Linked DNA regions of Homo sapiens. The protein of the gene in region 4 purifies or fractionates together with the protein of the main gene of each other region. This does not show direct contact. Each region holds a gene or a part of one and is shown on either strand. Other genes may lie near its edges. The genes, in order: MCM10, SUPT5H, MIB1, OFD1, CEP295, AKAP12 and PLEKHM2.

Region 1 (4,046 bases), on a different chromosome or scaffold from region 4:
CAAAGAGGCTGGGAGATTGAGTCAGCGTAATACAGAGAAGACATGATTTTTGGTGGTGACTGAGGTAAACGGGGTTGTGAGGCACCATGGGATTAGCCCTCGTTCTCTTGTGAAGGGTTCAAAGTGAATAGTATGGGGTCCCCAGGCAGCATTTTCCACCTGTGGCCCCCAGTGGTGTGAGCCAGAGCCTCTTCCCGGGGTGTGCCCTCTTTGGCAGACGGGAACAAGAGATGGTGGAGGCCTCTTTGCTTCCTTGCAGGCATGTGACATTCTCAGAGCACAGGGGGCTGCCTGGCCTCTTCTCTCTTGCACTGTGCAGCCTTGGAGTCTTTGTGGACTAAGCAACTCAAGCTAATCCTTATACAACCTCTGACTGAGCATTAGGCCCCATCATCAGATTCTAGGCCTGAAGTTTGGCTACTGGCTTTTTCCTTCTGGTAAGGGAGTGTAGAGTGGTGGAAAGGATATTGGTTTGCTGATCTAGAGATTCCTTATTAACCCAGCTCCTGAACTGATCTGTTTCTCCATGTGATCCTGAACAAGCCCCTCACCCTCTCATACTCTAGCCCCTGAATTTCAGACAAGGAGAGTAGGTCAGATATCCTTAATATTTTTCCATTGAATACCTCTGATTTTATAAACAAATAGTGCCCAAATAGGGGGGAAAAAAGAGCAAAGAAAATAGATAAATCAAGAAAGAAGAAATCCGATTGGCAAATAAACAAACAATTCTTAACCTCACCAGTAATCCAAGAAATGCAAATCAAAACAGTGAGATGCCTTTTTAAATCGTCCATCAGATTGACAAAAAAATATTTAAGTGACACATCAGATATTGATGAGGTGGTGGGGAGAAGTGGCCCTTGTGTACAGCTCTAGTGAGAGTGATACAGATGATAGCAATTATTTAGGGAGATAGTAAGGGCAACAGAGTCCTCAGCAGAATTTCCCTTTTAGCAAAAAGCAGCCCCCAAGTAATTTCTAACAAGGCCAGCCAGAAAAATCAAGCGGACATAGAAAAGCAAGCTAGTAATTTGCACGGATGAATACCTGCAGCTGTGCCAATAGGAAAAGGCTCCCTGGGGGCCAGGCGTGTTCAACATGGCGGCCCTTTTTCTGTGTCAACCACGTGTACAGTAAAGAAACAGACAATATGGCGCTGGCCAGGTAGAGAACCACCTGCATAATAAAAGATTAGGGTGGGGCAGCCAGGTTTTCCACCCTATGCAAATGGCATACCTAGTCCAGCCAATCTTTTATGTCCTGTGTAAATCAGACATTGCGTCCTCAAGCTCGTCTATGAAACCCCATGCATTTTGCCATGGACGCGGCAACCCATTTCTCTGGGACCTCTCTGCTGCCGAGAGCTCTTCTCTTTCTTTTGCCTATTAAATCTCTGCACTTAACCTCACTCCTTGTGTGTCAGCATCCTTGATTTCCTTTGCATGAGACAACGAACCTCAGGTATTACCCCAGACGAACTATGCCATTTCAAGAGTGCATCCACTTTGAGAACAATTTGGCAGCATCTAGCAAAATTGGAAAACGTGGATACCCAGCAATCCAGCAATTCCATTTCTGATAGATATTCCCAAGAAACACATGTGCGAGAAGACGGATACACGATTACAGCGTATTTAGTAGTGGGGAAAAATTAGAAATAGCCCATATTGTCCTTTATTGGAAAATGGATTAATGAGGTGTGATACAGTCTTATTATAGGATACAATATAGCAACGAAAAGAAAGAAACTAGAACTATATGGGGTTTTTTGTTTGTTTTTGAGATGGAGTCTCGCCCTGTCACCCAGGCTGGAGTGCAGTGGTGCGATCTCGGCTCACTGCAACCTCCACCTCCCAGGTTCCATCAATTCTTCTGCCTCAGCCTCCTGAATAGCTGGGATTACAGGCACGGGCCACCACGCCCAGCTAATTTTTGTATTATTAGTAGAGACGGGGTTTCACTTTCTTGGCCAGGCTGGTCTTGAGCTCCTGATGTCAGGTGATCCTCCTGCCTTGGCCTCCCCAAGTGCTGGGATTACAGGCGTGAGCCACCACGCCTGGCTAGAACTATATGTTTTGATTTGGGTTAATCTTACAAGCAATGTTGAATGAACCTGGAATGCAGAGTAATGCAGTGTGGAATATTTATGTAAATATTTTTAAAACCATCTAATATAGATTGACTATGACTGCCTATATATTTATGTAAAAGCATAAGAATGGACTGGAATGATGCCTCAAAATTATGAAAGTGATTACAATGGGAAGTGGGGGCAGTGGTCAGGAGTTGGGATAAGATTTGGCATGACAGACTTCATCTGGAAGGTGTTATTTAATGTTAAAGGCAAGAAGCAAACAACAAAATGTTAATGATGGCTAATTCTGGGTGATGGGATCTTAGTATTTTTTATATAGTTTGTATCTTTTTTTTTTTAAATCTCAAATAATTTGAAGGTCAGGAATTATATACATCTAAAGCCTAAATCTATGTTTGGTGTTTTAAAATTATTCCCTTGTTGGTTGAATTTCATGGAAGTCGGTGTGCGGGAAGCTGTCTCATTGATTGGAGTAGAATGCTTGAGGACATTTGGCCCCGTGGCTGGCCCACTCTACTCACTAAGCAGTATTGGCTCCTTCTTAGCCCAGTGTCCCCTAAGAAGCACCTGGGGACAAGAAAGATGGAGACAAGGAGAACAAAGACCAGGCAAAATGGTGCATCTGTAGGTTTTTGTTTTTTTTGTTTGTTTGTTTGTTTGTTTTTTTAGTTTCAGCTTTCATTTTAGATTCAGGCTTGTTACAGAGATGTATATATAGTGTGATGCTGAGGTTTGGAGTATGGTTGAACCCATCACCCAGGTAATGAGCATTGTACCCATTAGGTAGTTTCTCTTACCCCCATGGGGTCATTTAAATTGCCTAAAGTTGAATGTTTGGAATTAGCCGTGCTTATTCTCTGTCCTTTCTCTTCTTTTCCCCTAGAGGAGGAAGACAATCTGTCTCTGCTGACCGCACTGCTGGAAGAAAATGAGTCAGCCTTGGATTGTAATTCAGAAGAAAATAACTTCTTGACGCGGGAAAATGGCGAGCCCGACGCATTTGATGAGCTCTTTGATGCCGACGGCGACGGTGAATCTTATACAGAAGAGGCTGATGATGGAGAAACAGGAGAGACAAGAGACGAAAAGGAAAATCTGGCCACTCTCTTTGGAGATATGGAGGACTTAACAGATGAAGAAGAAGTTCCCGCATCACAGTCAACTGAAAATAGGGTCCTCCCTGCTCCTGCCCCCAGGCGAGAGAAAACGAATGAAGAGTTGCAAGGTGCCCTAACTACTTGCCTTCCTTATTTCTTTCGGATAAGTTGGATGAAGACCACCAATCTGATAGTTGTCATCAAAATAGCTGCTGATTCAAGGGTAGAGATAAATGACTTTGTAAAAAAAGAAAAAAAGAAAGAAAATTATATGAGTTGGTAGATGAAATGTTTGGGCCAGCATTTCAGCACAAACTATAGACTCTATCAGTGTCAGCCAGCTGCACTTGATCCTGTACGGAATGGCTCTGAAACTTTTCATATTTCTTATGGAATAGTAGCACTTTGGGATGTATGTGGATGTGGAGCCAGAGACAAGGTTGCAAAGCTGCCACATATCTATTTGAGCAGAGCATTCCTGAACAGAAGCTTTGACACATGTTCTTTTCTCATTCCTGGCATCTCATACATGTTTAAGCTATAGTAAAATTCAATGGTTAGCTGTTTCTTCTAATACAGAAGCCAGCATTTATTATATTAGTTATGATATCCAATTTATGAAGTAAATATAATTTTTTTTTTTTTCCGAGACAGATTCTTGCTGTGTCACCCAGGCTGGAGTACAGTGGTGCAATCTTGGCTCACTGTAGCCTCCACCTCCCAGGCTCAAGTGATCTTCCTGCCACAGCCTCCCTAGTAGCTGGAACCATAGGCATGCACCACCATGCCCAGCTAATTTTTTTTATTTTTTTTATTTTTTGTAGATACAGGATCTCCCTATGTTGCCCATG
Region 2 (4,046 bases), on a different chromosome or scaffold from region 4:
TCAGATTACTCCTTGGTTAATCACACTCTCAACCCAGTACTACCCAGATATCTTGCTTTTCAGAAACAAAAGATAGACCAAGTCACTCTCCAGAGACAGACACCACCAGGCAGGCCTGCTGCCCACCGACCCTGAGCTGCACTCAGACAGAGCCTCTCAGGCACCTGAGAATGCTAGAAGGGCCTCAACTTACCCTCCTGGAAACCAGGTGTCACCAGGCACACCACCGCCTCGACAGCCACATACAGTCAGATGTGCCTGAACACTCCAACCCCTGCCCGAGAACACCGGGCACCCACCTTGAGGTCCTCATGCTTGGGCATGATGGTGATCTTGTTGCCATCCACGCTGAGGATCTTGCCCTGCAGGTTGATGAGCTCACCCTCACAGACCTCCACGTTGTCCCCAGGTTGGAAGTTGTGCTCCCGCTCCTTCCCTGCAGGGGCAGTCGTAGGGCTGACTCGGGGGTTGCCACCATGGGCCGCCCCTGCTCCTTGGCCCAGGTTATAGAGGGGGATCAAATACCTGTGCTCTCAGTCACCACCTCCAGGTCAATGCCCTCTGGCTGGTCCTCAAACTTTTCCAGCTCAGAGAGTGTTGGCTTCACACCCTCCGTGATCTAAGCCCCCAGCGGTGAGGGGAAGAGAAGGAAATGGACCGAGGTCAGTGCAACAGCCCAGCTGAGTGGGCTGAGTGGGTCCTAGGGGAATAATTCTCCTAGGGAACACTCCTAACTTGAGGAGTGGGACAGAACCAGATAACCCACAGCCCAGGGCATCACCTGCAGGAGAACACTCACACCACCCCCATTACCAACACCCCTCTGGGACCCTCACCACAGCAGACATGGCGAAGCTCTTGAACAGAAAGCCCTTCCGGCTGTAACGGTTCCCCTCAAAGATGAGGAAGTCACCATCAGAGGCAACATCACCCCCCAGGGACCTGGAATTTGATGGGGGAGAGAAGATTAGAAGGGAGAGTCAAGAAGAAAATCTTGCTGTACCTCAGTCTTCTCAGCTGGCAACAGAAGGAGAGGACCACAGGCAGACTGACCCATCCCATCCCAGCACACACCCTCTTGGCAGCAGTGACTTCTCACAAACCCCAAAGGCCCGCCTCCCACCTCCCTGCACTCCTCCACCCATTCCCTGATTTATCTTTGAGCACCGATCACCATCTGACAATCTAGTGTTTGACCTGTCCCCCTAACTAGCATGTCAGCTCCAGAAGGTCAGGGATGTAACATTCACTAAATTTCACCAAGAATAGTGCCCAGTACACAGAAAGTATGCAGTAAACATTAGCTGAACAAAATAACAGTTTCAGACAATGATACCAGTGAATATTCGCAGAGCGCTCAGCCTGGCCTGCACACTCATGACCTCACAGGCTCTTCCCCAAATCTGTGGCATCAGTAACTGCTCATCATTTCCAGGTGAGGGAATGCAGGCTCAGGAAGGTCACATCACATGCCCAAGGGTGCCAAGCCACAGTCTTGACAGGATTCAAAAGCAGGCAGGTGGGACTCCCAAGCCTGCAGCTCCCGGCCCCAAATGTGGAGTGGCGGCCGCTTAGTGCCTGTTCCGAGTCTCCGGGGTGGGGAAGGAGCCTCCTTCATGGAGGAGCAGGTCAAGTTCCTCCTGCGCTCATGCAATCGCCTTCTCCCATGGTGAATCTGGGAGAGGGGCCAGCATGCTCTGCTGGGCATGCTGGGGTACTTGGTCAGCTGGCTTGCTGGGGGGTAAGGGAGCACTAGGGTTTGTTCTTTGCAAAGAGAGGTTCAGGTGAGTCGAAACCAGTGGTATAAATGGGTCCGAACTCAGGCAGGTGAAGTATTAGCAAGGCCCTTGGGTGCAGACTCAAAGGTGCATTCCACAGCTCTTCCTTTATCTGAAGGAAAACCTGACTGGCTGAATCACACACAATTAGTTCTAGAACAGGACCAGAGGGAAGAGTGTCACTGGCACCTCTCGTTTCTCCATGTCCTCCTCTCCTGCCCTCCCTGCCGGAGCCCCCAGTTGGCCCTGGGATGTTGAAATTCCTGGGCTGCTCCAATTCTCTACCCAGCTAGGGAGTCTGGGGGGCATCCTGAGGGAAAGGCACTCCATACCCCCCCATCTCAAGTGGGCATAAGCAGATCAGGAAAGGAGACTTTCTAAAGCCTGACATAGTCCATGAATCCCATTTCAATATATCACACCATGGATCACACTTACTACGTGCCAAGGGCATTCTGAGTACATATGCATACTAATTTATTTAATTCTCACTATAATCTATAATCTGAGGAAGCAGAGGTTGTTTTCTTTTTTTTTGAGACGGAGTCTCGCTCTGTCACCCAGGCTGGAGTGCAGTGGCACGATCTCGGCTCACTGCAATTTCTGCCTCGTGGGTTTAAGCGATTCTCCTGCCTCAGCCTCCCAAGTAGCTTGGATTACAGGAGCTGACCACAACCCTTGGCTAATTTTTGTATTTTTAGTAGAGACAAGGTTTCACCATGTTGGCCAGGCTGGTCTTGAACTCCTGACCTCAAGTGATCCGCCCGCCTCGGCCTCCCAAAGCGCTGGGATTATAGGTGTGAGCCATCACGCCCAGCCTCATCAATCTTTTTAAATATTTTTTTAACTTTTTTCTTTTTATTATTATTATTATTTTAAAAGATGGGATCTCATTATGTTGCCCAGGCTGGTCTCGAACTCCTTGCCTCAAGCAAGCCTCCTGCCTTAGCCTTCCAAAGTGCTCCCTCCCGCTGCGCCCAGCCTCATCAATCTTTATAGCAGAAGAAACTGAGGCACAGGGATGTGAAGTGACTTGCCTGAGGCTATACTGCCAAGCTAACCAATTCACAGGCTAAACCTGTGGCGGGGCCACCCCTGGGGAGGAACCTGCAAAAGGCACATTCTACACACCGGCCCTGGGGACCCAGCCCAGCCAGTCCCCAAGGACACGCACCTGATCTTCTCAGCATCAAACAGCCTCTGTGGAGGCCGCTTAAACTTCTTCCTTTTGGCAAACCAGTCTTTCTATGGAGGAAAGGGGCATGGGTGGGAAGGGTGAGGGAGGGGGCTTGGCCACCAGTGGGATCGAGCACACTCCCTCCCCCCCAGGCCACAGATTCCCCTGAGTACCAAGCTCATGCGGGCCTTGATGCGATCGTAGTCGATGCGTGGGATCATCTTCAGGGAGATGGTGTTCTGGCTGGGCTCCACGTAGTCCACCTGAGCAGGGCGAGCAGAAGGTCAGCAGGGCCCCACTCTCCTCCCTGACCCCAGACACAAGAAGGGTCAGGAGATGCTAGGAAGGAGAAGGGACGCAGGATGGTGGGGAAGAAACCAGGCTGCTGACCACTCCCAAAAGTCCCACGCTAGCTTGTCTGTCCCCTCAACTCTGGCACTGAGTAGCCACTGCCTGCTTGGTATCTCCACCTGGATGTCTAAAGGTCCCTCAAATCCAGGACGACCGCAGCCAAACCGCTGATTCCCCCAAACCTGCCGCCTCCCACTCCATTCTTCCCTCTGCTCAGGCACACAACCTGGGAGCCACTCTTGACTCCTTTGTTTCTCTTACACCCACACCCGACCCGTTGGCAAATTCCATCAGCTCTGCCTTCAAAATACCTGACCTCTTCCCCTCCTCCACTGCAGTCTCAGCATTCCAAATCCAAAAACCCAAAATGCTCAAAAATAGGAAACCCTGTGAGCACCAACATGATGCTCGAAGGAAATGCTCACTCTTGGATTTTCAGATTTGGGATGCTCAACCGGTAAGTATAATGCAAATATTCCAAAAGCTGAAAAAATCTGAAATCTGAAAAACACCTGTGGTCTCAAGAATTCAGGTTAGAGACACTCAACGTGTATTAGGGTCTTGGTCCTATCCCACCAGCACTGCCATCTGGGTGGGATGTGCTACAGCAGCAGCCTCCTCCCTGGTCTCCACGCTCTTGCCCATGGCCCCCTCCAGGCTATTCCCGGGTTTCTCAGCCTTGGCACTATTGACTTTTTGGGCCAGGTAATTTTTTGTTGTGGGCAGCCATCCTGTGCATT
Region 3 (4,046 bases), on a different chromosome or scaffold from region 4:
ATTTAAATCAAGAAAAAGACTGAAATCAAAGAAAAAAATTAGAAGAATAGTATAATAGTCTAGGTAAATGTGGTGAGTACTTAATTGGGTCAGCAACAGTGGGAACAGAATGGAATGGGTTGGAAGGATTGGTAGAATGAGTAAAATTTTAAAACTAGTTGGAAGCTAAGAATTGGTGAGAGAGCAAAGATAACTCTAAGCAATGAAGCAGCAAGAGGAATGAGGTATTGACACATTCACTGCCCATGTGTTTTGGTCTTGCTTCACAGACAGACCATAATACAGAAAAGGTGATGTAAAGTGGTTTAACAGTTATGATTCTAAAGTCACCTAGACCTTGCTCAAGTTACAGCTGCTTCAGTAATCAGCTACGTGTTCTTGAATAATTAAATTCATCTCTATAAGCCTCATATTCTTCACGTGTAAAATGAGGATATTAACACCTGCCCCAAAAAGCTGTTGAAAGGATTAAGTGAGATGATGCATGTGAAGCACTTTGCAGAGGCTGGCATGTGGAAAGTGCTATCATAATCTTCTGTTTGAAGGGCAGGGAAATATAATACTACTGTCTTCTTCACAATGCCAAAATCTGAAGTGTTCAAATATTTGCAATTTGGAAAAAAAATCAAGATGTGATCTAAAATATGATCATTCATTTTGTCCTACAATATATACCCACTGTTACAGTTACCAATAAGCAGTAGCAATAAAATCCTTTTGTTTCCTGTGGTCACCCTCTAGTGGTGATCCTAAGAAGCTAAAGGAAACATGATATAAAAATACAATAAGGAACCAAAGAATAAGTGTTCAGAATAGATAAAATTATCAAAATAAAAATCAAAGTGAAGATTTTTCTTAGTCCAGGTATACAGGTTTGACTCAAACATAAACAGAAGACATCCAATGCAGAATTTCCTAAAATGCTTAGGGTAAAGTTGTTCCAAAAAGTGAGTTAATGGAAATCTCTAAATTAAGCAAAGCTAAGCATTTTCCCATTCTGTGGGACACCGCAGATCCTTCATAAAGAATGTGATTCTCCAAAAGGAGTCTTTCTCAAATGTCAACCAGCAAATACTTTTTTCAGTAGAATACTATTGCTGTAACAATGGATGAGGGGATAGCTATACTAGAAGTTTATATAACTAATTACATTATTAATAAGGAATTAGGTAACTTAGTATTTATTTAGTCTTAAGTTTTAAAAAATAATTATCGTGCAAATGGCAACATGAAATTAGAGGACACCCAGATAATTATTTTGAAGAAACATAAATCTCAAAATAAAATGCATTTTAATTAAATCTTTAGAAAGAAACTAGTATTCCTGATATTTTACAACCACATTTAATATAAACTTAAATAATCATTTCATAATATTTGTATTAGATTAACAACCAAATAATCATCATATAAAACTAAAGGCATAATATTCACAAAACTTTAAAATGATTTAAAATACTAAAATAGCCAAAATTATTTCTTCATCAGTATCAGAAAAAGAGAATCAACAGTAGGAAAATATTTTTGAATTGCACCTAAAATAGTAAGGGGTGACATACCTGGGATTTCCCCTTAGTGCAGCATGATGCAGAGCATTAAATCCATTATTGTTTGTGATGGTAACATCTGCTCCAGCTTCCAAAAGAACTGCTAGGATATCATCACGTTTCTTACTTATTGCATCATGAAGAGGGGTATCACCTTCAGAATCCTTTAAGTTTAAAGAAATTTTCATTAGTTCTTCAATTAATTATCCCATCTAATAGTAATACTTACACCAAATGCTAAGCAAACAGAAGCAGAGACCACATCCAACAAATACCAATAAAAGAGCACTTTCTGTGATAACTACAAAAATATAGGCAAAGGCTGGGCATGCTGGCTCATGTCTGTAACCCTAGCACTTTGGGAGGCTGAGGCGGGAGGATCAGCAGAGGCCAGGAGTTCAACACCAACCTGGGCAACATATAGAGACCTTGTCCCTACAAAAAATTTTAAAAATTAGCCGGGCACGGCGGTGTGCACCTATAGTCCTAGGTACTCAGGAGGCTGAGGCAGAAGAATGGCTTGAGCCCAGGAGTTCAAGGCTCCAGTGAGCTATGATCATGCCACTGCACTCCAGCCAGGGTGACAGAGCGAGACTCTATCTCCAAAAATATAAAAAACAAAAATACAGGCAAGAAACACTGGCCACATTATAGTAAGGAAAGACATACTCAAATCTAGTTGGAAAACAAAATAAGCATGCTGGAATTTTTTTTTCTTTTTTTTGAGACCAAGTTTCGCTCTTTCACTCAGGCTGGAGTACAATAGCGCGATCTCAGCTCACTGCAACCTCCACTTTCCGGTTTCAAGCGATTCTCCTGCCTCAGCCTCCCAAGTAACTGGGATTACAGGCACCCACCACCATGCCCAGCTAATTTTTGTATTTTTAGTAGAGACGGGGTTTCACCACGTTGGCCAGGCTGGTCTCAGACTCCTGACCTCGTGATCTGCCCACCTCAGCCTCCCACAGTGCTGGGATTACAGGCGTGAGCCACCTTGCCCGGCAAAGTTCTTTTTTTGTAGAGATGGGGGTCTCAGTATGTTGCCCATGCTGGTCTTGAACTCCTGTGCTCAAGTGATCCTCCCACATGAGCCTCTCAAGGTGTTGGGATTACAGGCATAAGCCACCACTCCTGGCACATGCTGAAGCTTTACAAAGCAAAAAGAAAAGAAAAGAAGTAGCCTCAAATATAACTAATGACAAAAACCAGTGAAGTGATAAAGCTGCCCCCCAAATTTTATAAGTTTAAAATGGCCTTAATTGTCATACCCTGAAATTCCATACCAAACCTACACCATAACAATGAATTGAAAGTCGGTGGCTTTCAAACTTGGCTGCTCATTAGAACCTGCTGGGGAGATCTTTTAAAATCTGTTGTACAGAGGAAAAAAAAGAGAAAAAAAAATCTGATGTCCAGGCTGTTCACCATACTAAATCTCTAGAGGTGAGAGTGAGGCATGAGTAATTTTTCAAAGCTCCACAGATGAACATCTTGTGCAGTCACAGGTGAGAAACATTAATCTAAGCGTTTTCAAAGGGCAGCAAAGTGGCTAGTTAGCCAAAGGTAAAACAATTGTAAATTAAAATTTAGCAATCTCAGTCTACCATTTTTTCAAGCTGACTACTTTTTACATTAATCAATTGACTTAGCAGTAAGTTTTTATTCATTAGCAGTCATGTACAGACATGAATAATTTAAATTTCATTCATTTCATAGTTGAACAGATGCTATTCTCAGTAAAGTCATATACAACCTGGCCTACAGCATATACTACAGTTGCCAAATTCAGTTTGCCACTTGTTTTTTGTTTGTTTTATTCTTTTTTACTAGACATATTTCCTGCATGGTTTGTCTCCCCAGTCACTGTCCACAGGATTCTGAGAAGCTACAGGAATATGAAAGTGCAAACACCAGACCCAGCTTCATCTCCAACACTGAGGAAAGGGACTGTACATCATGGGGCAGAGCCCTATGCTCCCCTAAGCCATGTGGACAAAGCCTAGAAAAAATGATATCCCAGGATATTACACATTGGAGCCACCTGTTTTTGTAAATTAAGTTTTATTGGAACACAGCCACACCCATTCATTTATGTATTATCTATGGCTGCTTTCATTCTGCAATGAGAGTTAGATAGTTGTGGCAAAAGCCAATAAGCCACTATTATCTGTGCCCAATATAGAAAATGTTTGCTAATCCCAGGAATATATTCATCCACCTACATAAAGAATTCCTGCTAGGCATGGTGGCTCACACCGGTAATCCCAGGACTTTGGGAGGTGGGAGCAGGAAGATTGCTTGAGACCAGAAGTTTGAGACCAACCTGGGCATTTCTACAAAAAATTAGCCAGGCATGGCAGCTCACACCTGTAGTCCCAGCTACTCGGGAGGCTGAGGTGGGCCCTGAAGGTTGAGACTGCAATGAGCCATGATCACGCCACTGAATTCCAGCCTGGGCAACAGAGCAAGACCCTGCCTCAAAAAAAAAAAAAAAAAAAA
Region 4 (4,046 bases):
AATGCATCTGGTTCAGAAAGACATCTGGCCGACAGCCCTTACCAGCTTCACCTAGCATCCCAGTAAAATTTCTGGAAGCCAGAAAAACTATGAGTAGCAGATAGGTCAGGCATCCTAGTGCCAAAATTTGGATAGAACTCTTAGCTAACAAAATAGCTCCTGGTAAGATAAAATTTTTTTAAAAATTGGTGTCTTCTAATTAAGTAACAGAAAACATGTAGGAAGATATTGTGTACTTAACCGTTGTCTGTCCCCTGACTCAGACCTATGGTCTTATCCTACCATATCTATGCTCAGGGGGTGCTAAGCTGTTGAATGGCCTTGGTACTTTTCCTCCTAGATTCTAGTCACCCATTCTTCCCACTGCTAATTTTCCTTTCAGAGATAATGATATCTGTTATGCGTGTCTGTGTGAAGAGACCACCAAACAGGCTTTGTGTGAGGAACAAGGCTGTTTATTCACTTGGGTGCAAGTGGGTTGAGTCCGAAAAGAGAGTCAGTGAAGGGAGATAGGAGAGGGGCAGCTTTATAGGGCTTGAGTAGGCAGTGGAAAGTTACAGTTAAAGGTGGTTATTTATTGTTAGCAGGGGAGGGGGTCCCAAGGTGCATGGTGGAGAGATCTTGGGACTCATTGTCCAGAAGAAGAATGTCACAAGGTCGATTGATCAGTTGGGGCAGGGCAGAACAAGTCATAATGGTGGAATGTCGTAAGGTTGGTCAGTCAGTTAAGGCAGGAGCTGTTTCACTTCTGTGGTTTTTTAGCTGGCTCCTGCAGGCCATCTGGACGTATATATGCAGGTTACGGGGGTTACAATGGCTGAGCTTCGGCTCAGAGGCCTGACAATATCCAGAAAATGATGTGCACAAAATTTGGATGAGGGAAGAAAATTTGGACATCGGCCCTTTGCTTTTTGGAAGTAAAAATTCTTATCTGCAATTGGCAAAAGAATAAGACATATACATCAATGGGGACAGAATTAGGAAGTCCAGAAATACATCCACACAAATATAGTCAATTGATTTTTTTTTTAACAAAGGTGCAAAGGCAATTCAATAGAGGAAAGATAGTCTTTTCAACAAGTGGTGCTGTAACAGTTGGATATTCATATGCGCAAAAATGAACCTAGACACAGATCTTATTTATTATACCTTACACAAAAACTAACTCAAAATGAACCATAGACCTAAATGTAAAATGCAAAACTATAAAACTTCCAGATGAGAACAGTAGAAAGTCTGTGATCTTGGGTTTCGTGATGAGATGTAACACCAAGAGCAAGATACATGAAAGAAAAAAGTAGATCAGTTAGACTTTATTAAAATTAAAAACATCTCTGTGAAAGACACTGTTCTTTTTGTTTTGTTTTTGAGACGGAGTTTCACTCTGCCACCCAGGCTGGAGTGCAGTGGCGTGACCTCGGCTCACTGCAGCCTCTGCCTCCTGGGTTCAAGTGATTCTCCTGTCTCAGCCTCCTGAGTAGCTGGAACTACAGGCGCCTGCCACCACGCCTGGCTAATTTTTTTGTGTTTTCAATAGAGATGGGGTTCACCATGTTGATCAGGCTGGTCTCGATCCCCTGACCTCAGGTGATCGCCTGCCTCAGCCTCCCAGAGTGCTGGGATGACAAGCGTGAGCCACTGTACCCTGCCAAAAGACGCTGTTAAGAGAATGAAAGACCCAGTGTCGAAACCCATAGAGCTTTACGTCATCAAGAGTGAACCTTAATGTTTGCAAATTTAGGTCAGGTGATCCCAGGATGGTATGCAGACTGTGACAAAATCTAATCCCCTTCCTGAAGGGAGTGGGGGTGGGGGAAAAGGTGCTGAGCTAACTACTGTTTTTAGTTCCAAGAAACTAAACATTTCTTAAGTAATTTATGCTTGTGGTTTAAAACAGTTTCAAACTATTCAGAAGGATATAAAGTGAAAGCAAAGTAGCAGTTTCTGCCCATGTTCTCTAATCTCACGCTCCACTGATAACTAGAATTAACAGTTTCACTCCACTGATAACTAGAATTAACAGTTTCTTGTTTATCTTCTAGAATTGTTTGAGGTTAAAACTATGTATTTGTAATTAAAACACAATCAATTGGGATTATATCGTAGATACTGTATGCAATTTGCTTTTTTTAATCCACCAATGTATCTTTCTGTAGCAGTATAGACTAATTATTTTTAAATAATGTATTTAACCCCCTATTGATGGAGATCTGGTTGTTTTATTGTTTGCTTTTTGCCATTACAGGTAACCTATGTGCAGTGTGCACCCTTTGTGCCCTTGTGAAAGTATACCTGTGTAAATTCATAGAAGTGGAATGACTAGATTAAAGGGCACATGCATTTCGAATATATATAAGCACTGACAAATTTCTCTTCCAAGTGAATGAGTATAGCTATATATCCACTCCCTTGCCAACACTTAGCATTATACAAGTTTTAATCTTAGCAGTGTTATAGGGAAAATAATGGTTTCTCTGTTGTATTAATTTGCATTTATGATTTTGTTCATGTTTATTCAGCATCTAAAAATTGTGTTCATCTTTGACAATGTAGTTTTTTCTGCAAACTACCCATGTTTTTCCCCATTTTTCTGATTTTTTTTTTTTAAACTGATTTGTAAGAGTTCTTTGATGTTATGAAAATGTCATCACTTTAGTCTTGGTTATGCCTCCATATTATTGCAACTATTTTTCCCAGTGTGTTATTTTTTTATTTTATGCCATATGTAAGTTTTCAGTTTTTATGTAGTTAGATTGATAAATATTTCTCCTTATTCCTTCCAGGTTCTGTATCATGCTTGGGAAGGCCTTTTCTCAGATTTATTAAAAGATATGACTGGGCACAGTGGCTCATGCTTGTGATCCCAGCACTTTGGGAGGCCCAGGCAGGAGGATTGCTTGAGGCCATGAGTTTGAGACTAGCCTGGGCAACATAGCAAGACCCTGTTTATACAAAAAGTAAAATTAGCTGGGCGTGGTGGGTGGTGGTGTGCACCTCTAGTCCCAGCTACTTGGGAGACTGATGTAGGAGGATTGCTTGAGCCCAGGAGGTCGAGGCCGCAGTGAGCCATGATTACACCACTGCACTCCAGCCTGGGTGACAGAGCAAGACTTTTGTCTCTAAAAAAAAGGAAAGATATATAATGTAAAAAATGATAATGTCCTAAAACTAAGATTGTAAAAACAGTGACTGAGCAGTGGTTGAAAGTTCTGAAACAAAACTGTATGCATATGTTTTTTAGGTTTTCTTATGCATTTTTTAAAAGAATTGGCAGAATATCATCAAGCTAAAGAGAGTTGTAATATGGAAACTCAGACAAGTTCGACATTTAACAGAGATTCTCTGGGTAATTATAGCCTTCTTTCTTAATTTCAGTTCTGCTGTTTTCATTTTGAATGAAGGAAATTATCTGATTTACCATATTGTGTGATTGCTCCTTGAACTGGAGGGATGCAGCCGGCAGGCAACAAGGGAATTCATTTCTGGAATCATCTTGGGGGACCAGGAAGTGCTCTCCAGTGTCATTCCCTAGCCTCATGAATGCCAGGGCTACACTGGCCAAATCATGCAGGGATTCAAAGGCCCATATTCTTCCTTGTTTGTTGAGTTTGACTTCTCTTAACTGGGAGGTTCTTCCTCGTGTCTTGTCTAACTTTACAGCCACCCAGTTAGAAGATTATAAACTACTTGCTTTGCAAAGTACTAGAGAAGTCAGTGACTTATCACTTCATTTTATAGTTGAGGAAACCGAGGTCCTCAGAGGAAGAGCAACTTGGAAACACTCAGTCTGCATCAGAACTAATAGTGGAGTCCAAGTTCTCCCATCCATGATCTGGAGCTTTTTGTACTATCCAGCTGGTCTGCAGTACCATCCTGTCTGTCAGTTTCGTGCTCAGTAGAGATGGGAAATAGCTGTTTAAAACGATATGCTTAATGGATTTCTTGGCCCTTCCTTACTCTTAAATGGTAACTTGCAAGAAGATAAGTTCATAATTCATAAAATGTATTATATGACTATGCCTTTAAGTGTATTTTTAATTCAATTA
Region 5 (4,046 bases), on a different chromosome or scaffold from region 4:
TCAGTTCAATCCTCTGACCTCAGCTTCCTGAGTAGCTAGGACTACAGGTATAGGCCACCATGCCCAGCTAATTTTTTTTTTTTCCTAGTAGAGATGACGTCTTGCTATGTTGCCCAAGCTAAACTTTAACTTCTTTAGGCTGGGCATAGTGACTCATGCCTGAAATCCCAGCACTTTGGGAGGCTGAGGTGGGCAGATCACTTGAGCCCAGGAGTTTGAGACCCACCTGGCCAACCTGGTGAAACCCTGTCTCTACTAAAAATACAAAAATCAGCTGGGTGTGGTGACACAAATCTGTAGTCCCACCTACCCAGGATGCTAAGGTGGGAGGATTGCTTGAACCCAGGAGGCGGAGGCTGCAATGAGTCAAGATCACACCACTGCACTCCAGCCTGGATGACAGAGTGAGACTCTATCTCAAAAAAAAAAAAAAAAAACAAAAGGCCGGGCCCGGTGGCTCACGCCTGTAATCCCAGCACTTTGGGAGGCTGAGGCGGGTGGATCACGAGGTCAGGAGATAGAGACCATCCTGGCTAACACGGTGAAACCCCGTCTCTACTAAAAATACAAAAAATTAGCTGGGCATGGTGGCGGGCGCCTGTAGTCCCAGCTACTCAGGAGGCTGAGGCAGGAGAATGGTGTGAACCCGGGAGACAGAGCTTGCAGTGAGCCGAGATTGCGCCACTGCACTCCAGCCTGGGCGACAGAGCCAGACTCTGTCTCAAAAAAAAAAAATCCTCCTTAACTTATGACTTTGGTCTCATCTACTTTTAATAAAATATTTTTTTAACCCAACTTACCTCGAAGGAGGCTAATTATTACTAAGCAGGCCAGTTTATAGTCCTAGTTAGTTTTTTCAAAAATACAGCTGGGGAATAATTCCGTGAGCCAGTATTTCTTCTCAGATAAATACTTTCTCAGGCCAGGTGCAGTGGCTCATATCTGTCATCCCAGTACTTTGGGAGGCTTAGGCGGGCGGATCACCTGAGGTCAGGAGTTTGAGACCAGCCTGGCCAACATGGTGAAATCCCATCTCTACTAAAAATACAAAAAGTATCTGGGCGTGGTGGTACGCACCCACAATTCCAGCTACTCAGAAGGCTGAGACAGGAGAATCGCTTGAACCCAAGAGGTGGAGGTTGCAGTCAGCCAAGATTGTGCCACTGCATTCGCCTGGGCGACAAGAGCGAAACTATCTCAAAAAAAAAGAAAAAAAGAAAAAAAGAAAAATTTCTCATCAATAGTCTAGAACAGTATTGTTCAGTAGCACTTTCTGTGATGATGGAAATGTTTTATATCTATGTACAGTATGTACCTGTTAGCCACATGGGCTGTTGAATAAAATAGTGTAACTGAGGAACTAAATTTTAAGTTTTATTTAATTTTAATTAAATTTAAGTAGTCACATAAAGCTAGTAACCACTCTATGGACAGTACAGTTGTAGATGTACTACAGAACTGTAAACAGTCTAAATTCAGGGGCTCCTATGAGTAAGGGAAAGTAAGGAAGAGGAACTGTCTGGGAACTCAGTTGAAGCCACTGTTGCCTAACTAGGAATAGGTAAAGAATCAGGTCAAAACATTTTTTATTTTGAAAACAAGATCATTGTTCATTATCTCTAGTAGAAGTGCTGCTCTTTATATAAGAAAACAACGTGCATTCCTTTTTTTACTTATTCAGTAAATACTTGTCTGTTTATCAGGGACTGTAGAGTAGTCCCTGCTTATCCACAGTGTATATGTTCCAGGACCCCTAGTGGATGCTTAATAGTACCAAACTGTGGATAATATTGATTCCTGTATATACTATGGGTGAATTTATTTTTCCTTCTTTATAATTCCACTGATAGAAGATTTACTTTTACCATAGATCTTAGCAATCAGCGTATAATTTTTTTTCTTTCCTTATTGAGAACTTTCAGCTTTTCACTAAAAGGAAGCACTTTACAGCCTCTCTTTGACATATCAAAATTGCCAGCATTACTACTCTTATGCTGTGGAGCCACTGTGAAGTAAAATAAGGGTTATTTGAACACAAGCACTGTGATGCTGCAACAGGCAAGTTTTTGTAACCAAGATGGCTACTAAGTAACAAATGGCCTGGTCCAGTTTACAGCATGGATATGCTGGACAAAGAGATTATTGATGTTTTCAGCAGTACAGAGTAGGACAGTGCAAGATTTCATCACACTACTTAGAATAGTGCATAATTTAAAACTTATGAATTATTTCTGGAATTTTCTATTTAAGATTTTCTGGCTGCTGTTGACCCTGAGTAATTAAACCACAAAAGCTAAATTGCAGATAGGAGGGGACTAAGGTGCTGGATTTGGCAGGCTAGTTTTGTCCTCATGAAACTCATAGTTACTCAAACATGTTCATATTACTTAGAGTGTGAGTGTGCTTGTATAGTATTAGAGTTTATGTGTTATCTTTCTGCCATTTTCTTCTGTTCCATGCCTGACAAAAAAGACACAGAATGTTGTTCATTGCTTCTAGATAACTATCCCTCTTAATGAGCATGGTTAAGAAGTCAAAGTATTTTAGGAGGCCTTGATATTTAATTTCTTTAGTCATTATTTATACTATTAAATGTGTGAACATAGAATTTGGCTGTACATCATTTGCTACTTCAAGGTAGTTCTTCAGTGGTGATCAGGGTTTCACTGTGCTCTCAGAAAGTAGAAATAGTTAATGTATTTATTCTTTCTTTTCCTTCTGCCTTTTTTTACTTCTATCCCTTTTTCTCTTTTTCCCATTTCCCATCTTTTACTCCCATCCTCAGTCTGTCAGTGATAACAACAGAGATAAAGCATCAACACTTACTTCTTTGAAAATTGGTACCCTTGGTGAAGAAACCTAATTTCTTTTAAATGGAACGTGTGTTATCTTTGCCTTTGTATGAGTTTGTTGTTAATAGATCAATAGTATTTTGTTACCTAGATAATGGAAATAGAAGAGCAGAAGCAAAAGCAATTGGAATTACTTGAACAAATTGAACAGCAGAAATTAAGATTAGAAACTGACTGCTTCAGGGCTCAGCTGGAAGAAGAAAAAAGAAAAAAAACTCAACCGACTGGGGTAGGATGCAGAAAATCTCATCACTACATAAATCATTTGGTAAGGGGGGCAAGAAAATATGAGCACTTGTAGCGTTTAGAAAAGTAAAATGGATGGCTGGGCGCGGTGGCTCATGCCTGTAATCTCAGCACTTTGGGTGGCCGAGACAGGCAGATCACTTCAGGTCAGGAGTTCGAGACCAGCCTGGCCAATGTGGTGAAACCCCATCTCTACTAAAAATACAAAAATTAGCTGGGCATGGTGGCACGTGCCTGTAATCCCAGCTACTCCAGAGGTTGAGGCAGGAGAATCGCTTGAACCTGGGAGGTGGAGGTTGCAGAGTGAGATTCCATCTCAAAAAAATAATAATAATAAAAGTAAAATGCCTTTGTAATTCTTATTTGGTCTTTTTTTGATATAATGTATGTATATATGAATAAATTTGCATCAGTTACGGCTTTCATCTTTCAGTTTCTATAGGATACTAATAGATACGACCATGGTTTGTAGGTAATGCGTATGTTGAGCTTTTGGACCTGCACTGAAGGAGAATGACAGATTAGTTCATTTCTTACTAATGGAAATGCCAGTCATTTTATAAAAAATAAAGCTGTATGGAAGTTTACAATTATAGAACTGTATGTAAAAATACTTCAATACTTACTTCTAAATTTGCTTTTTAATTAGTAACTTTGTCTTTTATTAGGTTGGCATTGCTCCAGCATCATGCCCTGTAATTTCTGATGAAGATAGTCATAGGCAGATGATTCGTAACTATCAACATCAGCTTTTACAACAAAACAGGTATTAGCTAGGGTATAATTTATATGTGATCGTATGTGGCTACATTTTTAGGATTTATTGTTTCATTTATATGAGGATCTAATTTGGATTTCCTTAGAATTATGGCATTTAGAACTGCCATTCTTAAAGGACAATGTGAGTGTAATTTCTTTTCACCATGAGTATTGCCAACCCTAGATTGC
Region 6 (4,046 bases), on a different chromosome or scaffold from region 4:
GCCAATGCGGGTGGATCACTTAAGGTCAGGAGTTCGAGACCAACCTGACCAACATGGTGAAACCCCGTCTCTACTAAAAATACAAAAAAATTAGCCAGGCGTGGTGGCACTTGACTGTGATCCCAACTACTTGGGAGGCTGAGGCAGGAGAATCACTTGAACCCAGGAGGCGGAGGTTGCAGTGAGCCGAGATGGCACCACTATGCTGCAGCCTGGGCAACAGAGTGAGACTCCATCTCAAAAAAAAAAAACAAGAGAGAAAAATGAAAAAATTTTTTTCTTTTTAAAAGCCAGTCAAGTTTAGCAGTGTAGGGTTGTATACCGACTTTAGTAACACTGATGTTAATTTCTGATAACCCACTACCATCGGACCAGCCTAAAAATGAATTCTTAACTCCATTTTACAGAGAATGGGGAAGATATGAGGGAGGTAAGAAATGTGCTCAAGGTCGTGAAAGTAACTTCCTTAAGGCGGAAGCAAATGTATATGAAACACACTTGTGAAATGGGTACATAATGCATAGGATACATGTGTTCTCTGTCAGGAGCCTGTAGTGGCCTGCTGTAGAACTGTGATATGCTTGGCTCCGTCCCGTTCAATGTTTTTGATGAATGGCTTAGCTGAGGACATTAATATGTTATTTACATTTGGAGATGATATAAACAGAGGAGTTAAAGCTCCAGCAGTGTGGCCTGTTGGCCTAGATGATCTTAAAAGATTTATGAACCCTGGCAAGCAAGGTTATTAACATGCTTGAAGCCTAAGAATCTATGAGTTTTAGGGTTCAATGTATTTTCACTTCTACAGTGATAAAGTGAGTAAAAAGGAAACCGTGTCTGTTCTCCCAATTTCCCTCTAAGAGGATAAAACCAAACAACAACAATGCCATAGAGGTAACCATTATTAAAGATTTGGTACATATTGTTCCAGACTTTAAAAAAAATGCTTACACAAACATTGACTCCTTTTCTCTCTCCCTTTTCCTCTTCCTCTCCCTCTTTGTCAGTGGGTTATTTTTGTTTAGTTTGGTTTTAAACACATAAAAGAATCATTCTCAGCAACTTGCTTCTTTTCCCCCTTAAGCCAGGGACATCTTCACACATGAGTGTGTCTAAATCTACCTCATAGCTTTTGATGTTGTCTATTGCATGAACATTTCATAATTTAACTACTCCCCTCTACTGATAGACATTTAAGGGTTTTTTTTTTTTTTGCTATTATGAAGTATTTATTACTTATTTATTTTTCCTTTGTAGAGACTGGGTTTCAGTTTGTTGCCCAGGCTGGTCTCAAACTCCTGGCTTAAAGCCATCCTCCTGCCTCAGCCTCCCAAAGTGCTGGAATTATAGGCATGAGGCACCACGCCCAACCCTATTATAAGTTATTATGTGTTGCACCTCATAAATATGTAATGCCATATCTATTAGAATGGCATGGTGTAGCTAATGGGTTTGCGTATTTAAAATTCTATCCCTATTTCCAAATTGCCTTCCAGGGATATTGTTTACTGATTTGTACTCTGGTTTTTATTTTTTTTGTTTGACATTTTTAAAGATTTACTTTCAAAACACTTTCTATTAGAATGAAGGAGAAAACACAATGAAGAGGTTTCTTTACAAGTTTTGTCGTGGGATTTAAAATTCCTTCCAGATAATCTTTAAGTCTGATGATTTGATCATTTGTGGGTGTGTCCTGGTTATATTGGCTTCTGGTTCCTTCCCACGAAGGCCACTTACAGGTTTGCTTCTTGGTCATACTGCCCGGGGTGGGACGAATTGCCCCTTTGGAGCCTCGTCTACTGTGTGAACTGCAGGAGTGCTGGGCCACTTGCACCCGGTCGTCCAATGAGGATGTAGATCTGGGAGTATCACTTCTGCAGTGAAAAGGGTTGCTTTGGTTGGCTTACCTCCTCTGCCCCTGGCATCCTGACAGCTGTCAAGGGCTCATCATTTCACAACTTCATTAAACAGCCTGGTACTCCTGTTTCTTACTCTGCAAAGGAGGTCCCTAGCACGTTGTGGACTCCTGTGGAGAAGGAAGTGGATGGAGAAGTCTCCTAGTTTTTCTGTGGTGCCTTGGCTACCACTTGGACATTCTTGGTTGTTGTTCTTACAGAAATGAGAGGAAAACACTGTTGCTGGAAACATTTGAGGTTTTTAGGGTCTTTTTTTTTTTTAACAGCTTGTTTAGTTGTAATGTGGTAATACTTCATGGGAATAAACTCTGGCTGACCCACTCAAAGGATATAAGCTTGAAAACATTTAGGGTTTTGATTTGTTCAAAGGAGGCATTTGTGCTTTTTGAAGCACAAATCCAGTGGGAAAATAGGTTTTCTGGTGCTTACCATGTTTAAGTGTAAGGAGCGTGTCTTTCAAGTCTAGTTCTCATCTCAAAAGAAATAACTATTTATAAAACTAAGTTCAGGGTGGAGGGATAAAGCTATGCGAGGAAGCTTCGGAGTGGAAAAAGTGAAATATACATTTCCTCCTTCTTTCTTGTTTGGTAACAGTTAAGTCCCAGTATTACTTTCCTCCCTGAAATGGGTGGTCCTCGAATCCCATCTGGCTCCAATGAATCCCATCTGGTTCCACCGCCTCCTGTCCCATGTGCCACTATGTTGTGTCTGCATCTTTCAGGGTCTCTCTGGGCAGAGCTGTGTGTAAATCCTGTCTTCTGTGGCCATTTGAGTTGCAGACAGGAGAGACTGATTGAAGTTAAGCAAGGTGCGTGTTTATTAATAAAGAAATGTACCCACAATGTATGAAACCATCAGGTCATAAAATAACACGTGTTCCCCATTATTTTTTAAGTGAATGCTTGTGCCTGTATATATACACACGTAGAAAACACAGAAAAGACTTAAATGAATGTAGGTTTGATTTCCTCTATTTGAGGTGACTTTAACTTATTGATAACTCTCAGAAGTCCGTGAATTTTTAACAACGGTATGACTTATTTAGACGGTTTGGGGATGGAAGAAAAAACAAAAACACTTTTGATTTGGAGTGAAATAAAGGGAATTATCCATCTTTAACAACACGTGGGATTTGCAAAAGTGTGGACATGTCTGAATGTGACAATCTGACTAGGAATGAAGTCCCATTTTGTGCGGATGTTGGTGCCTCATAGGCTCTGAAAGCTCACCTGAGACATCACCCTTGAGGTCAAAGCTTGGGTACCCTGGCGGGACGCAAGCTATTCACATAGTAAAATAGACTCAAAACTCAGGTTCAGTAACGTCACTGTCATAAATCGTTTTCTACCGAAGTTAATAATGTATCTACGGCCTTTCTCAAGTAGGGACAGTTACCCTGTGGTTACTGAAAATTAGTATCTCATAATGTATTCATTATCATACTTAGGATGTAAGGATGTGTAGCATTTGACCTCAGTTTTTAAGGGTCCTTCTTTTTATCATCTAATGTACTTTGCTATGTGTGTGTAACATCTCTTTTTTTTTTCTTTTTTTTTTTTTAAGAGACGGAGTCTCCCTCTGTTGCCCAGGCTGGAGTGCGTGATCTCAGCTCGCTGCAACCTCCGCCTCCCAGGTTCAAGTGATTCTCCTGCCTCAGCTTCCCTAGTAGCTGGGATTATAGGCGCACACCACCACACTTGGCTAATTTTTTGCATTTTTAGTAGAGACGGGGTTTCACCATGTTAGCCAGGATGGTCTCGATCTCCTGCCCTCATGATCTGCCTGCCTCGGCCTCCCAAAGTGCTGGGATTAAAGGCATGAGCCACTGCGCCTGGTGTAACATCTCTTTTTTAAATGATGTTTTTATTTGGAGACGAGGGTCTCTCTATGTTGTCCAGGCTGGCCTCAAACTTTTGGGCTCAAGCAATCCTCCTGCCTCAGTCTCCTAAGTGCTGGGACTACAGCGCACGTCACAGTGCCCGGCTCAGTAACATTTCTAAAAGAGTAGACGGAAATTTGTGCCTGTGTGCTATAGTCTTCATGTTTAAAGAGACTCAGTTTGGCTCCAACTAAAGATACCTTGGATTGGGCAATTCACAGAGGATTATAAGAATTTTTTCAATAATTTTA
Region 7 (4,550 bases), on a different chromosome or scaffold from region 4:
TAAAAAGGAGGGACTAATCTATGTGTCAGGATATATTTATTTGGGAACTTAAGGAGGGAAGAGAGCCAGGTAGGAGACTGACACCTCTAAGTGCAGGGGCTTTATGAGATGGTGGATTTGAGGAGGGTGTGTGGGAAGAGAGTTGTTACGGTGGGTTTCAGGGGCTGAGGGAGTTGAGGCCCTTGGGATACGTGGGGCTGAAGAAGAGGGATAAGGATAAGGAGTGGGAATGGGGCATTGGGGCTGAAGGTGAGGAGGGTGTGTTTTGGGGGTGGGGAGGAACACCAGGGACCTCAAATGTAGGACTGGGCCTTGAGGGTGAGGCACTGAGGAGGGGAGGCTGTGGAGGGCCAGGGGGCCCAGGGAGGGTCTAGGGCTGGGGACTGGAGTCTAGGCTGACCCGGTGGGGGTGCTGGGTCCTCCAGGCTGCGAAAGCCAGGGGGCCTGGGTCTGCACATTGAGGGGGTGGCTGGGCTAAGGAAGGGGAGGAAGATAAGTGGGGCTTGCAGGCTAAGAGGGTCTTGGGGTCCCTGGCCAGAGTTAGTGGGGTGCACTGGGGTCTCCAAGGAGGGGTCTGTGGACTAAAGAGGGCCGGCGGGAGGGGGCCCAGGGTCTGTGGGTGTCTCGAGTCTCTGAGGAGGGCCGGGGTCTCAGGGTCTGTGGGGGTCTCTGGCCTGTGGGGTCGGAGTCTCCAGAGTCCTTGGGGCCTGTGGGAGTCTCTGGGGTTTTGTGGGGGGATCCTGTGGGCTGAGGAGGGCTGTGGGGAGGGTCTCAGGGTCTCTGGGGAGGGCCAGTGCCTCGGGGTCTTTGGGGGTCTCTGAGGAGGGCTGGGGGCCCAGGGTCTGTGGGGGTCCCCAGCAGGTGGGGTTGGGGTCTCCGGAGTCCCTGGAGTCTGAGGGTGTCTCTGAGGTCCCAGGGGGGAGTCTATGGCCTGAGGGCTGAGGGGGAGGGTCTCCAGGGTCTCTGAGGAGGGCCGGTGTCCCGGGCAGGCGGGGTCGGGGTCTCCGGAGTTCCTGGGGTCTGAGGGTGTCTCTGGGGTCCCTGAGGGAATCTGTGGGCTGACGAGGCCTGGGGGAGGGTCTCCGAGGAGGGCCGGGGTCCCAGGGTCTGTGGGGGTCTCTGGCAGGCGGGGTCGGGGTGTCCGGAGTCCCTGGGGTCTGAGGGTGTCTCTGGGGTCCCTGAAGGAATCTGTGGGCTGAGGAGGGCTTGGGGAGGGTCTCTGAGGAGCCCCGAGGTCCCCGGCAGGCGGGGTCGAGGTCTCTGGCGTCCCTGGGGTCTGAGGGTGTCTCTGGGGTGCCGGGGAGAGTCTGTGACTTGAGGAGGGCTGGGGGCGGGTCTCGGGGTCTCTGGGGAGGGCCGCGGCCAAGGGTCTGTGCGGGTCTCCGGGTCCCCGGAGTCCCCAGGCGCAGGCGGGCCCTGGCGCCGCCCCGCCTGACATCAGTTCCTGCCGCCGCCGCCGCCGCGGCGCACAGCCCGCGGCCTCCTTCCCCGCCGGCCGCGCTCCGGAGCCTCCGGGCCGCGGTGGAGCGAGGGCCCAGGCGAGGCGAGGGCCGGGCGGCGGGCGCCGGGCCCCGCGGCCGGCACGACGGAGCCCCCGTACGGCCGGCGGCAGCGGTTGGCGGCGGCCCCCGGCCCCCGGCGCGGGAAGCGGCGGCGGGGCGGCGGCGGCGGTGGCGGTGGCGGTGGCGGCGACGGTGGCAGCGCCATGGAGCCGGGGGAGGTGAAGGACCGGATCCTGGAGAACATCTCGCTGTCGGTGAAGAAGGTGAGCGCGGCCTCCCTCCCGGCCGGGGCCCCTTCCTCGCCGCGCCCCCCACGCCCTCCGGCGGCGCTCTCCCGGGCCGGGGCCCCCCGCCCTTCCCCTCCGCGACCCGGGGGGCGACGAGCGGCCGGGAGCCCCGGGCCGGTAGAGGGGAAGCGGCGCCGCTCACGTGAGCGCCGCGGCCTCGGAGCTATTTTTAAAGAACAAAGTTGAGGTCAGCATCCTCGGAGCTTCCCCAAACCTGGCCCGGGGCCCTGCCCTCCCGGAGAGGGGTCAGCGACCCTCCGGTCCCCCACTGGGGCAGCGGCGCCCCCGGGAGCTCCTGAAGGAACCCCATGCAGCCTCCTGTGGAATCCGCTGCATCCCCGGGTCCCCCCGCCAGGCTGGCGTCGCCCAGGGTCTGGCAGTCAGGGTGGAGGCCAGTGATAAGCAACTTCACTTTCCCATGGCCTGGGTCCCGGCGACATTGCCTCTGCTCCTGGGAAGTCCCCTGAATAATCTTGCTCAAGGATGGTAGCTTTGAAGAGGTTCACTAGGGGCTTTGATTATAAGAACCTGAAGTACATGGGGATTGCATTTTGGATGCTGATCCGGGGAACCGGGTGACACCACAGACACCTTGCTGTGGGGCTTGCCGCAGTAAACATCACTGTCCCAATTCCAGGTAGAAATGAGTACATACCTGTCAAGGGCATGTATTTGTGATGAAGTTGGCATATCCGCAAAAGGGTCCGTGCTAGAAGGTAGAATCCATATTCTGACGTTTTTGGGCTGGATATAAAAATAATAATAATAAATTTAAAAGAATCCATATTCACTGAAAACCTAAATGGCCAAATCAGAATGGATTTTTCTCTCTCTCTCCCTCTCTGTGTGTGTGTTTGTGTAATTTGAATTCCTGGCTCACCAGATAGTCTCAGAAACTGAAAAAAAAAAAAAAAAAAAGAAAGAAAGAAAGAAAAAAGAGAAAGAAAATGGCTTGGGTGAGGGACTCAGCAGCTTATTTTACTTGAAGAAGCAAAATGGATAGAATTAATTAGATCAACCATCATATTTAAATAATTGTCTGTTTTCCCACTGAGATTCCTCAAAAGCAACACAGGCAAGCTATTTTACCTTTCATAAAGATAAATGTGACTTAAAAAGAAAATAGATTCTCGAATTGCCCTTACTGAAAACATTCCTCTAAAAGCACAGCTAAAGTAACATTGCAGAGATCCAACAAGAGTTTTACGTAGTTTTACTGAGCTTTGCTAATGTAATGGGGTATGGTTTTTGCTTACTCAAGGAGGGCAGGATGAGCAAATACTTTGTTGAGAAGCAGTACATCTTTCCTAATGGAAGAGAAAGGAACACAGGTGACCTTTCTAATCTAATCTGGGCTGATTGTGGCTTTAGGTAGGCCCGGCGTTTGTCTTTGGATTTCAAACAAATGAATGGAGAAAGTCTGTGATGGAGAGGCAGTAGACATGGGGCACGCTGTCACATGTATAAGCATGAGTCTTTTGAAGGCAGAGATTCACTTTGTAAGTCAGGCTGTCACTTATGAGTTAGGTGTGTTTGTTGAGGTGCATATAATTGTAGGTGTTTGGACAAGGACACTTATTGAGCTGGAATGCACCCCAGAAAATGTCACACTAGAAACTGCAAACCCATCCCTGGGTGTATCACAACCAAAGCCATGGGCAGCATCATTGTTAGGAGCATGGATTCTGGAGTCCAGCTGCCTGATTGAATCCCCGCCCTGCCAAATTAATAACCCTGTAACCTTGGTCAGGCTTATTAACCTCTCCATGCCCAGTTTCTTCATCTGTAAAGCAGGGATAAAATTAGGGATGTTGTGGAGTGTTTTTTTGTTGTTGTTGTTGTTGTTGTTTGTTTTTGAGACAGAGTCTTGCTCTGTTGCCTGGGCTGGAGGGCAGTGGTGTGATCTCGGCTCACTACAACCTCCACCTCCCAGGTTCAAGCGATTCTTCTGCCTCGGCCTCTCGAGTAGCTGGGATTACAGGTGTGCGCCACCACACCCGGCTAAATTTTTTTTTTTTTTTTTTGAGACGGAGTCTCGCTCTGTCGCCCAGGTTAGAATGCAGTGGCCTGATCTCCGCTCAGTGCAAGCTCCGCCTCATGGGTTCACACCATTCTCCTGCCTCAGCCTCCCAAGTAGCTGGGACTATAAGCGCCGGCCACCACGCCCGGCTAATTTTTTTGTATTTTTAGTAGAGACGGGGTTTCACCATGTTAACCAGGGATGGTCTCGATCTCCTCACCTTGTGATCTGCCCGCTTCGGCCTCCCAAAGTGCTGGGATTACAGGCGTGAGCCACGGCGCCCAGCGTCTAATTTTTGTATTTTTAGTGGAGATGGGGTTTCCCCATGTTGGCCAGGCTGGTCTTGAACTCCTGACCTCAAGTGATCTGCCTGCCTTGGCCCCCCGAAGTGCTGGGATTACAGGCATGAGCCACCGTGCCCGACTACTTTTTGTATTTTTTGTAGAGATGGGATTTCGCCCATATTGGTCAGGCTGTGTTATGAAGATTTTGTTTGTTTGTTTTTTGTTTTTTGTTTTTTTTGAGATGGAGTCTTGCTCTGTCACCCAGGCTGGAGTGCAGTGGCGTGATCTCAGCTCGCTGCAAGCTCCGTCTCTCAGGTTCACGCCATTCTCCTGCCTCAGCCTCCCGAGTAGCTGGGACTACAGGTTACAGGCGCCCGCCACTATGCCCGGCTAATTTTTTTGTATTTTTAGTAGAGACGGGGTTTCACCGTGTTAGCCAGGATGGTCTCGATCTCCT

Evidence for each region.
Region 1: the proteins of OFD1 (region 4) and MCM10 purify together in Homo sapiens (affinity purification with mass spectrometry, with the first as the bait; one large-scale study listed by BioGRID). This does not show direct contact.
Region 2: the proteins of OFD1 (region 4) and SUPT5H purify together in Homo sapiens (affinity purification with mass spectrometry; one large-scale study listed by BioGRID and IntAct). This does not show direct contact.
Region 3: the proteins of OFD1 (region 4) and MIB1 purify together in Homo sapiens (affinity purification with mass spectrometry; one large-scale study listed by BioGRID and IntAct). This does not show direct contact.
Region 5: the proteins of OFD1 (region 4) and CEP295 purify together in Homo sapiens (affinity purification with mass spectrometry; one large-scale study listed by BioGRID and IntAct). This does not show direct contact.
Region 6: the proteins of OFD1 (region 4) and AKAP12 purify together in Homo sapiens (affinity purification with mass spectrometry; one large-scale study listed by BioGRID and IntAct). This does not show direct contact.
Region 7: the proteins of OFD1 (region 4) and PLEKHM2 purify together in Homo sapiens (affinity purification with mass spectrometry; one large-scale study listed by BioGRID and IntAct). This does not show direct contact.

The regions. Positions count from the first base shown.
Region 1 is NC_000010.11:13,167,941-13,171,986, forward strand, and holds part of MCM10 (protein MCM10 homolog), read left to right. Parts: intron 1-2,981; coding exon 2,982-3,323; intron 3,324-4,046. UniProt on the Homo sapiens protein: Acts as a replication initiation factor that brings together the MCM2-7 helicase and the DNA polymerase alpha/primase complex in order to initiate DNA replication. Additionally, plays a role in preventing DNA damage during replication.
Region 2 is NC_000019.10:39,465,652-39,469,697, reverse strand, and holds part of SUPT5H (transcription elongation factor SPT5), read right to left. Parts: intron 3,219-4,046; coding exon 3,129-3,218; intron 3,024-3,128; coding exon 2,953-3,023; intron 1,477-2,952; exon of another isoform or gene 1,405-1,476; intron 943-1,404; coding exon 837-942; intron 620-836; coding exon 526-619; intron 437-525; coding exon 300-436; intron 1-299. UniProt on the Homo sapiens protein: Component of the DRB sensitivity-inducing factor complex (DSIF complex), which regulates mRNA processing and transcription elongation by RNA polymerase II.
Region 3 is NC_000018.10:21,817,160-21,821,205, reverse strand, and holds part of MIB1 (E3 ubiquitin-protein ligase MIB1), read right to left. Parts: intron 3,583-4,046; exon of another isoform or gene 3,378-3,582; intron 1,712-3,377; coding exon 1,560-1,711; intron 1-1,559. UniProt on the Homo sapiens protein: E3 ubiquitin-protein ligase that mediates ubiquitination of Delta receptors, which act as ligands of Notch proteins.
Region 4 is NC_000023.11:13,741,174-13,745,219, forward strand, and holds part of OFD1 (centriole and centriolar satellite protein OFD1), read left to right. Parts: intron 1-3,241; coding exon 3,242-3,346; intron 3,347-4,046. UniProt on the Homo sapiens protein: Component of the centrioles controlling mother and daughter centrioles length. Recruits to the centriole IFT88 and centriole distal appendage-specific proteins including CEP164. Involved in the biogenesis of the cilium, a centriole-associated function.
Region 5 is NC_000011.10:93,692,554-93,696,599, forward strand, and holds part of CEP295 (centrosomal protein of 295 kDa), read left to right. Parts: intron 1-2,928; exon of another isoform or gene 2,929-2,943; coding exon 2,944-3,081; coding exon of another isoform or gene 3,082-3,120; intron 3,121-3,766; coding exon 3,767-3,864; intron 3,865-4,046. UniProt on the Homo sapiens protein: Centriole-enriched microtubule-binding protein involved in centriole biogenesis.
Region 6 is NC_000006.12:151,298,557-151,302,602, forward strand, and holds part of AKAP12 (A-kinase anchor protein 12), read left to right. Parts: intron 1-285; exon of another isoform or gene 286-377; intron 378-4,046. UniProt on the Homo sapiens protein: Anchoring protein that mediates the subcellular compartmentation of protein kinase A (PKA) and protein kinase C (PKC).
Region 7 is NC_000001.11:15,682,854-15,687,403, forward strand, and holds the start of PLEKHM2 (pleckstrin homology domain-containing family M member 2), read left to right. Parts: upstream 1-1,466; 5' UTR 1,467-1,705; coding exon 1,706-1,765; intron 1,766-4,550. UniProt on the Homo sapiens protein: Plays a role in lysosomes movement and localization at the cell periphery acting as an effector of ARL8B.